Linked DNA regions of Homo sapiens. The protein of the gene in region 1 interacts with the protein of each later gene in a pairwise test. Each region holds a gene or a part of one and is shown on either strand. Other genes may lie near its edges.

The links.
Region 2: the proteins of RAB17 (region 1) and CSTPP1 interact in binary tests that used the Homo sapiens proteins (3 or more experiments, as listed by UniProt).
Region 3: the proteins of RAB17 (region 1) and BOLA3 interact in binary tests that used the Homo sapiens proteins (3 or more experiments, as listed by UniProt).

What each region holds. Positions count from the first base shown.
Region 1 is NC_000002.12:237,584,021-237,587,774, forward strand, and holds part of RAB17 (ras-related protein Rab-17), read right to left. Parts: intron 2,138-3,754; 5' UTR 2,135-2,137; coding exon 1,978-2,134; intron 1-1,977. UniProt on the Homo sapiens protein: The small GTPases Rab are key regulators of intracellular membrane trafficking, from the formation of transport vesicles to their fusion with membranes.
Region 2 is NC_000011.10:46,939,679-46,943,432, reverse strand, and holds part of CSTPP1 (centriolar satellite-associated tubulin polyglutamylase complex regulator 1), read right to left. Parts: intron 1-3,754. UniProt on the Homo sapiens protein: Regulator of the tubulin polyglutamylase complex (TPGC) that controls cytoskeletal organization, nuclear shape, and cilium disassembly by balancing microtubule and actin assembly.
Region 3 is NC_000002.12:74,134,900-74,138,066, reverse strand, and holds the end of BOLA3 (bolA-like protein 3), read left to right. Parts: intron 1-2,408; coding exon 2,409-2,474; coding exon of another isoform or gene 2,475-2,545; 3' UTR 2,546-2,667; downstream 2,668-3,167. UniProt on the Homo sapiens protein: Acts as a mitochondrial iron-sulfur (Fe-S) cluster assembly factor that facilitates (Fe-S) cluster insertion into a subset of mitochondrial proteins. Probably acts together with NFU1.

The DNA.
Region 1 (3,754 bases):
AATTGGTACAGGCAGGGCAGGTGTGAGGGGGATGCTCGGACCCTGGCTTGCTGGAATGAAAGGAACTAGGGCCTCGCGCCTCATTGTCGGGGCCTCCATCCCCCTCACCTGTAAAATACAGAATGCCCGGCACCACCCTGAAGCTTCACAGACCCCACACATCACCCCCCCACCCCCACCCAAGAAAGGTGGGTGCTCTGTGGGTACAGCTCTCTGTGGGCTGAGCACGTCCAAGCACGTCTCAATGAATCCAAAGCACCCTCCTACGCTCCAACCGGGCATCTCGGAATCTCTCAGCCCTGCTTGCGCTCACCTAGTGAGTGCCTTTGGGCGCTGGCTCCTGCAGGCTCTGCTAGGGTGGCGTCATGGAGTCCTTCTGTAAAAGGCCCTGTAGCAGATACTTTAGGTTTTACTGGCCATGGGGTCACTGCTGCAACCACTCAACCCTGCTGCCATTTTAGAGTGAATAGAGGAGGAGGAACAGCAAGAATATCATTTACAGAGGGTAAGTACCTGAAGAGGTAGAGTTGTGTCTCCACAGAACCTTACTCACAAAACAACAAGAACAGCCAGAGAGCCACAGTGTGCAGACCTCCGTGTCAGAGTGAGATCCATCCCCAGTCCAGCTCACCTGGCCTGACACCTGCTGCCTCTCTCTGCATCTTGAATACCAGCCACCCAGGTACAAAGCTCTCAACATCCAGGCCTGGTGAGGCCCCCATCTGTGTGCTCTATTCTCAACTGAGGCCACCCTCAGGCCAGCCTTGGCATTTTGATGTATTTTTAAAGGAAGCCAAGTCCAATATCAGGACTTGGGGGGTGAGGGGTACAGATCTCCTTGCTAATGGAGAAGAGGATTGTACTGCACACCACAGGGTAACCTTGACTCTCTCCCCAGGGTCCCCCTCTGCAGACAGCCTCTCACCATCACCCTGGCCCTTCTCACCACTAGCTCTGGGAGTCGGGCCAGGCAGACCCCTGCCAATTCCCCTGTATCCCCTGGGGATCCTTCAGGAACCACCCCCCTGAGAAAATGGAAGGGCTCCCTAAATAGCTAACGTCATGTGCCACATCTTGCAATTGTGTTTCTGTGTTTGGTGCATCTGTTTAGCTGGTTATAGAATCCATCCCACCTAACGCAGGCCTGCAAAAGGGTTCATGCTCAACAGATGCCTGTTAGATGAGTAAATGAATGAGTGAATTTGGAGATGTGCAGCTTATCCATGTCAGAGTCCGAATTTGAAACCGAGGCTCTGATTCTGCATGTGTTCCCCCAGGGGGAATGGGCATAAAGAACACGCTGGCTTTCCCCATTTCAGGTGAAAACTGGGTTTCACTGCCTAGGCAGACTGTGCCCACAGCAGGATGGGAAGGAGGCCAGCAGCCTGCAGATGCCCCATACAGTTACTCCTGAGCTTCATGACAGGTTAGCCTTTTTAAGAAACACAGAGAGAAGGTCTCCCTCCCCGCCCACCCCCAAAATGATCTTCCCACCCCCAATCCAGGCCAAGCTGGTAAACCAAGTCCAGGCAGGAAGGAAGATGCTGTTGGGGTAAATAAAGCAAGGGAGCAGTGTTAGCAGGAGGGCGGCCTGGGTGGTGGGAGAGGACAGCTGGTTTAGGCCGCTGAGTGGCCAGGGCCCAGGAGGCTTCTTCCGGGCTGTCCCTTCCACCAGCATAATCCCTCGCACCCAGCCCGACCCTTTGGGGCCAGAGGTCCTACCCCAGAATCTCCACCCCCTGCAGACTCCAGCTGAGCTGAAACCTGACCCAGAGCCAAGGGCATTTCCTGTCTTTGTAGATTCTGTGGCTGCCCTCTTGGACCTCACCCCCTCCCCTCACGCACTGGACACAGGCAGCTCAAGGTCCCAGCATGGGGATTCCTAGGTGGGCCTCGTCCCCATCTGCCCCAGGTGTGGGTCAGCAGCCCAGACTTCTGCACTGAAGACCAACAAAGGGGTGCTCTGCCCTCACTTACAGCCCACCGTAGGCAGGATACTCTTGAAGTCGTTCTTCACGTACCGAAGAGCCAAGCTGGACTTACCCACGGAGCCACTTCCCAGGAGAACCAGCTTGAACACACGGGGCTGGCTGGGGGCAGCCCTGGGCTGGGGGGTCCTGTGTGCCTGTGCCATGCCCTGCAAAGAATCACAACCGTCTGAAGCAAGTGGAACATCGGAGCCACATCATCTCAGCAAGCTCAACCCCGGGGCTGCTTCTCGGTCAGGAGCAGATGGCCCAATACAGAGCTCCCAACTCAGAGGCCACCTAGGTCCACACTCCTGCTTCCCTCTGCACCCCATGCCCCATCTCCCCATCTGCAATTTTTAGGTCCATTTTTAGGTCTGTGGTAAGGAACAAAAGGAGCTTTGCTTGGAAAGCTCCGGGCACGGGTCATTGCAGACCCTGAAAAGCAATGATTACATGTGACGGTCTCAGGGCTTGTTGTCCTCCTTCCATTACTTTCAGTTTTTACAAATCTATTACTTGTCCCCAAAGTATCTAATGCAAGGAGAGGTAAAAAGCATCTGAGCATTTCTTGGGTGGTTGTTCATGGATTAAAGTTGGTGTTTCAGAAAAAATCTACCTAAAAAAAGGTTGGTGTCTCAATGATCTCAAAACATCGTAGACACATTCCCATTGTGTCTAAAGCCTCAGAACCCACAGTAATATGCCCCAGAGAAAACCAACTTCGTGATCAAAATAAACGTGGGCGACCCCTGCGTATTTTTCATCATAGAAACTTTCATGTACACACCACAATAGAGAGAACGGTCCGATGGGCCCATAGACCCACCTCCCGCTTCCCCAGTAATCAGCTCAGCCATTTGTATCACTCACACTCCCAAACCTCCCCCTGCAGGGTACTGTGTAAAGCAGATCCCAGGCATTCTATCATCTGCAAATCTCAGTAGAGATACAGGTATTTTTTTTTCTTTGCAGTTCATGTGTTGAAGAAATCAGGTTGTCCTGTAGATTTCCAGTACGGATGTTGCTGATTACACCCCTGTGTTATTGAATAGAGTCCTATGAACTCTGTATTTTTGATACCGCGGTGGTTCAGGACATAAACCTGATTAGATACAGGCTATTTTTTGGCAAGATTGCCATGAGAGTGTGCGTGCACTTCCCACAGAAGGCAAATAATGTCCAGTTGTCTTTCTGTGATGTTGGCAGTCACTGAAGACTATTACTTCGACCCACTATTTTACTAAGGGGTTGCAAAATGGTGACATTCTAATAATGTTCTAATGTTATCACTTTGTGTTTATTATCTAGGAAGAGAAGCTCCCCACAAAAAATATGAAACCCATCAGGGGCAGCTGGTCCTGGGAACAGAGTCTCTTCTCCCTTCCTCACCACAGTGGGCAAGAGGGAGGCTCCCTAAAGGGGGAAGGGGAGGAATTTTGAAAAGGAAAGAAGAAAAGCAGGAGTGGTTGGAAGCAGCCCACATGCCCTCACTGCCGCCAGTAAGGAGCCATGGCCACAGACTGGTCTGGTCTGCCCTGCAGGGATAAGAGGGGAGGGAATCAAGTTTGGAATCAATCTCAAAACAAATAGGACTGAGTCCTAGATACCAAGAAGATCGTTCTAGAGAGAAAGTGACTGAGAGTCATGGAGTCCAGAACAGGAGGGTTTAGGGCTCTCTACCCATCAGAGAAGAAGGGTTCCACATAGTAGACTCGGGTGGTTATCCCAAACATGCCTGGAACCCCATCTTAGCTGGAAATACTCAAGTTTCACCATCAAGTATG
Region 2 (3,754 bases), on another chromosome or scaffold:
GAGCCCCACTTTGGGAGTTGCTCAAAGTATTTATAGCATAGAGTTTAACCATGTGGACTTCAATTAGACTGCTGGGTTAGAATTCTGGATCCACCACTTACAACTTGTTATTTGGTATCTTTGTGTGTAGTTTCCTCATCTGCCGAATGGAGATAACAACTGAAACTATCTTCATATACATCAATATATGTAAAGCATTTAAAATGGTACCTGGTACAGAGTAAGTTCTTAATAAGTCTCGGTTGCTTTTGTTAGCTACTCATGTTTAGGGTACCCTAAGGTCAGATTATTCATATTCCATTTCACATATACGTATGAATTAAGTGTAGGAGAGTATACAATGATAGAAGGTATACAGTGATAGAAGGTAGACAATGATAGAAGGTTGACAATGATGAGTAAAACACAATTCTTGTTCCCAAGAAATTTATTTGCAAGAGCCTCATCCTTAATAAGGAAGCAAGAATTACTGCCCTTTGAACCAATAGGGGTTTTTTGGTTTGTTTTTATCTTTTTAGTGAAGAGGAAAAAACACAAGCTGTGGAATATGACAAACCTGGGTATGAACCCCTGTTTACTATGCATCATTGCCTGTGTGACCTTGTGCAAATCAATTAGCCTTTCTAAGCCTCAGCTTCCTTATTTATAAAATGAGAAGATGATATTAATAACTACTAATTGGGACCAGTAAGAGTACCCACTTCATATGGTAGTTGTGAAAATTAAATGAGATAAACCACAGTGCCAGGCATATAGGAAGAGTTCAAAAACTATAGCTTAAAAAAAAAACTACCCAATTTATTGTGATTCTTCTAAATGTCTAGTCCCCAAAGGAGAAAGGCCATCTTTGATTTCTAGAGTTATCTATTATACTAACCCACTATCAACCGTAGTGAGAATAAGCAGGTTCCATGGAAAAGAAGAGGCAACTTGGAGCGTGAGTGAAAGCATGCACCTCACCAAATTAGGTGGAGTAAAAAATAAACCTCACGCCCTCATGCTTATACTCAGGTCAGCACGTAGGTGGTATGTTTGGCAAACCTGGGACCAGAACAGGCTGCCCTTTGGCTCTAGAGAGCTCGCCACACCCAACCAGATACACAGACACACCTTCAGCCTCTGGCAGAAGCTTCCACTAAGTAGGTTTCATAAGGCTGGAAACCTTTTGCGGGTCCTACAGAGAGGGTCTATACTTATTTCATCTCCTTACCAGACTCTCCTTTCTCTCTTCAGGCCTAGGCATTAACACAATTTTTATCACTACATTCTGATGACTGCAGACATGAACATCACTAAGCTATTCTTTAGTGATGATCTTAAGATCTTAAGCCATGCAAGGCCATGATTACAGGTTCCTAATCTACAAAGTCAGTGGGGAAAGGATCAGTTTACCCAACATGATAAAAGATTGATTTCTTCACTAATAGTCAGAAAGGTAAATACAATCCCTAGCTAGCAGGGAGAAAGGGATATCTCTAGATATTCTTTGGATAGGTATCCCTGTAATTTACACCATAATCCTAAAGAGAGGTCTCCAGATACACTAACCAAGGGGAACTCAACTTTAGCTTTTGGGTTTCACTGAATGCCTAGGGCTTTCCAGTCTGCAGTTTTGTTTTCTCTATAAGTATAGTCTTCTTTAGGCTTACACATACAAGTAACTTTATAATGTATAAAAATAAAAACAAATGGAAAAATCACAGGTATTTAAAAATTTAAATCAGGAAATATTTTATTAATCTATTCTGTAGGGAGTGGTTTTAAACGGTCATTAGATTGAGGGTGAATAGGTTGGCCAGGCGTGGTGGCTCACACCTGTAATCCCAGCACTTTGGGAGGCTAAGGTGGGTGGATCACCTGAGGTCAGGAGTTCGAGACCAGCCTGGCAAACATGGTGAAACTCTGTCTCTACTAAAAATACAAAAATTAGCTGGGCATGGTGGCAGGTGCCTGTAATCCCAGCTACTTGGGAGGCTGAGACACGAGAATCACTTGAACCCTGGAGGCGGAGGTTGGAGTGAGCCAAGATCACATCATTGCACTCCAGCCTGGGTGACAGAGCGAGACTCCGTCTCAAGAAAAAAGAAAAAAAAAATTGAGGGTGAATAGGTCAAAGCAGCATGCCTCTAAGAGAGACAAATTGTAAAAGGCAGGGATAGTTCTCAACTAAAGACAAACGCATTTCAGCAGAGTGATACGGTTTGATGAACCAGGAGAAGGCAGTGAGGGGTGTGACCATGCTGAGGGCAGTATGAATGTCTAGTTAGTGGTTAGGACAAGGAATTAAGACACTTAAATATGCAACAAAGCATGAAGAAGCATTTGTATAGGATTCAATTATTAGGTGATTGGTTGGGCTTCACAAACATTGAAGCTTTTTCAACCAACCTGAGACTCTGATTCTGTTTGTAGATTCATTCTCAACACTGCCACTGAATTGGCCTTCCTGAAAACGCCATTTATGAAGAGACCACCAACTTCTATTCACCAAGGCACCAATACACCAAATCTGCCAAGCCTTTGAGACATAAAATTCAAACAGCAAACACCCAAGGAACTGAACAATGAACTAGCCTTTTCAAATATTTCATATATTCATTGAGTACTGGGTAATAAAATACATAAAATCTTTGGAAAAAAGTCTAGGCATTGCTTGACATTGATACTGTTATTCATTAGATACAAAATTGTCTGTGATATCCCCTTTTAGCTGATTAATGGATGTGGTCACTGTCTTAAGCTCTCTCTCTATATATATGTCTATATATATGTTCATGTATATATGTGTATATATATAGCTTTCAAAGACCAATCAGCCCTTAAACTTGGTAAAAAGGCACTCAACTTCATTTAAAAATGCATATTAAATCTACTCAGACTATCTGTCACTTAGATTGAAAAAAATCCAAGTTTGATGTATTTTGTTGTCAGCACAATGGGGAAACAGGCATTCTCTTTCATTGCTGGTGGCAAAATGGTACAACACCTATTAAGGGCAATCTGACAATATCTATAAGTACTTCAATGCATATGCCCTTAATCCACCAATTCCACTTTGTGGAACTTATTCTTGCAGATACACTTGCAAAGGAACAAAACTGCAGGTTATTCATTGCAGCATTCTTAGTAACAGCAAAAGGCTAAAAACAACTTGTTTACCAGTGCGGGACTGGTTAAATAAATTATTTAAATACTATATAGCTAAAAATGAATTTCATGAAGAACGAAGAAGCTCCCTACTGACTGAGAAATTACTTCGAGGCCAGGCGCAGTGGCTCACGCCTATAATCCCAGGACTTTGGGAAGCCAAGGTGGGCAGATCGCTTGAGCTCAGGAAGTTCAAAAGCAGCCTGGGCAACATGGAGAAACCCTATCTCTACCCAAAATACAAAAACTTAGCCAGGTGTGGTGGCTCGTGCCTGCAGTTCCAGCTACTTGAGAGGCTGGGGCAGGAGAATGGCTTGAACCCAGGAAGTGGAGGTTGCAGTGAGCCGAGATGGTGCCACTGCACTCCAGCCTGGGTGACAGAGTGAGACTCTGTCTCAAGAAAGAAAGAAAAGAAAAAACAAAAGAAACGGAAATTACTTCAAGATGTATTAAATGAAAAAGTATGCACTGTATACTCCTTTATGTATATAATAAACTCTGGAAAGATACACAGGAAAACAATAATAGTGGTTACTTTTGGGAGGCTGAGGATGGATGGAAACTGGGCAGATGGAGGCAAAGGGGTAGGCTTTTCACTAAAAACATC
Region 3 (3,167 bases), about 160 Mb from region 1:
TCAGGGAGGGGGAGTGCGCAGGGCCTGAGTGGGTGAAGCCCAGAAGGTTCCTCTGTCCAGGGTCAGTCACATGAAGGTGTGACTGGGCCCTCACCCAGCCAAGGTGGATGTAAGGAGGAGAGGCTGGTTGTGGTCCAGGCACAGACACAGTCTCTAGGGAGCATTCCACGCCTGCAGAGAGCAAGTGGCCCAGGGACCTTCGCCCAGTGATTATATGAGGCTTTTTCCAGGGACATTTCTGCCTGTCCGCAGAGTTGAGGGCCCTGCACTTGATTGTGGAGCTGGAGGGTGTGCAGTGTAGGCCAAGTGGGGCAGCTCATTGTCCCCCAACACAACAGGAGCTCCCGGATCAGGGCAAGTCAGGAACATGATGGAAACCAGGTATGGCCAGGACCTCAGGATACCTGGGTTCATATCCTGATTCCATTACTCGCTTGTTTGCTGACTTTGGACAAGGAGTAGACTCTATTTTTTTTTTTTAATTAAATAAGGGGATGGGACTAGATTGTGTCTAAGGATCTATAAACCTGACCACATATATTAGGATTCTTTATATTGTAAGAGACAGAGACCAAATTAAAATTAGCATAAGCAAACAAAGGGAATTAATTGGCCCATGTAACAAAATTATCTGGTTTCTGGCATATCTAGATTCCTCTCTCTCTCTGAGCTTTCAGCTTCTTTCCCTGTGTTGGTCTCCTTTTCTCCTGCTAAAGATGGGCTTTCTCTCCTTGGTGGGAAACACAGTCCATGGCCACCTCCAATTAATTTCATAGCATGTTGGCCCAAGAAACAAGGCTCCACTCTCAGAAATCCCAAGGGAGATTCTAAGTGGCCCAATTTGGGTCATGTGCCACCTCGGTCCAATCATAGGCTGGGCCAGTGGCACATAATGACCTCAATATCAGACCAATTGGTGGTTCCACCAGAATTATACAATAGAGTGGAAAAGGAATTATTCCCCAAGAGAAGGAGATCACTAAAGAGACTAGAAAAGAAAAATGTCCACTCTAGTATGATTATCAGATTTTGGCCTAGTATAAAAGGACCTTATTTCTTCCTCTGTACTGATTATAAACTTGAGCGGTCCAAGCCCCACTCTGATTCTGTAACCTCACTTTCTCCCAGCACTACAGGGGCCAAATATCTATTTGACTCTGGTAGTTCCTTCAGATTTGGGCTCTGACACCATTTGTAGCCTTAAAACAAGTCCCATAATTCCTTTGAAACTTTATTTCCTGCTCTGACCATTGGGGAATTTGTGCTAATTGGTATGATTTTAAAGAACTGCTCATTTTAAAGAATGCTTGATGCTCGAAATAACAAAACACAGGAAACAGCCTAAAAGTTCGCTAGGGGACAGGTTGAAAAGTTATAATGCATTCATATAATGGAATACTATGCTGATGCAAAAAAGAATCAGGACACCCATATATGCCTAACATAGAAAGATCTCCAAGATAGATGTTTGGGGGAAGAGCAAAGTGTAGAGCAGGGGTGTCCAGTCCTTTGGCTTCCTTGGGCCACAATGGAAGAAGAATTCTCTTGGGCCACACATAAAATATACTAACACTAATGATAGCTGATGAGCTTTAAAAAAAATTTCAAAAAAAATCTCAAAATGTTTTATGAAAGTTTACGAATTTATATTAGGCCACATTCAAAGCTGTCATGGGCCGTGGGTTGGACAAGCTTGGTGTAATGTGTTTGAAATTTTAACCATTTGCGTTTTAAAAGGTCATGGGGTGAAATATATTAGCTTGAATATGCCTGGTGAATATGCATTTTTAAGTCCCTGTAAAGATACACAAGAAACTGGCCAGGTGCAGTGGCTCACGCTTGTAATTCCGGCACTTTGGGAAGCCAAGACAGGCAGATTGCTCCAGTCCAGGAGTTCAAGACCAGCCTAGGCAATATAGTGAGACCCTGCCTCTACAAAAAATAAAAAAATTAGCCAGGCATGGTGGCATGTGCCTGTAGTCCCAGCTACTAGGGAGGCTGAAGCAGGAAGATTGTTTGAGCCCAGGAGGTGGAGTTTGCAGTAAGCCGATATCGCGCCACTGCACTCCAACTTCGGCGCTAGAGCGAGACCATGACTTAAAAAAAAAAAAAAAAAAAGATACACAAGAAACTAACAACAGTTCTTTTGGGAACAAGGGTGGAAACTGGGGAGATGGACAGGTATAGGAGGGAGACTTCCCTGAATGCCTTTTTGTACCTTTGAATCTTTAAATCATGTTAGATATTATTGATTTAAAAAAAATTGTTTTTCAAAAAAAGGAAAAATTGCTTAAACAAAGCACATACAAAGTCTCCTTCAGATGCAGAGCTGTATAAAAATACTCTCAGAGAATTACTGTAATCAACGTCAAATACACAAAAACTGATGATGCTGTTTTCTTACTTAGGCACTAAAAGAAGAAATCAAAGAGATGCATGGATTGCGGATATTTACCTCTGTCCCCAAACGCTGACCACGCCCTGGCTGCATAGATGCTGCTGCTTAAGACCTTGGATGAACTTCACTGACATCATTCTTCCCTAAGCAGTCACCAAAAAATTTATATATTTTGCTCATATACATTTCCATATTATAATTATAGAAGATGTATAATCTATTTAGATGTTAATTAAAGGAAACAAACAACTGAAGCTTTTGAAGGGTCATTAGTAATGTTTCAGGTTCCTTTATTTTGGCCAAAGGGGTCTTGTCTTTAGACAGTTCTGTCCTGCTACAGAGAGAGAATGCAGTGCCAGCTTTTTGTCTTTTGAAGAGGTTTTCCTGTTTCTTCCCCTCCACGAAACTGCTCAGGCCTCTTCATCTTACTGAAACAAAGAAAAGATCCTTTACTATTGCTGTTCTTTTCGTTTATCATTCTTTTCTTCCCCCTCTAAACTTCTTACATGAATGATCTTGGACCCTCAATTTCTTATGCTCTGAAATGGACTCTGAAAATTTGGGGGTGCCAGGATCCGGGTTCTTTTCCTGTGTTTGAAGATCCTCCACCCTTTGATTCTTGGTAGGAGGCAGAGCCCACCTCCCACGACAGAAGCTGAAAAGGCTTACTTTCCCTGCCTCCCTCACAGCTGAGGCACAGGCAGATATTCCAGACTCAGCCAATCAGATGGACCTGCCCTGAACTTGGGAGCAAGTCACACCGAGGAGC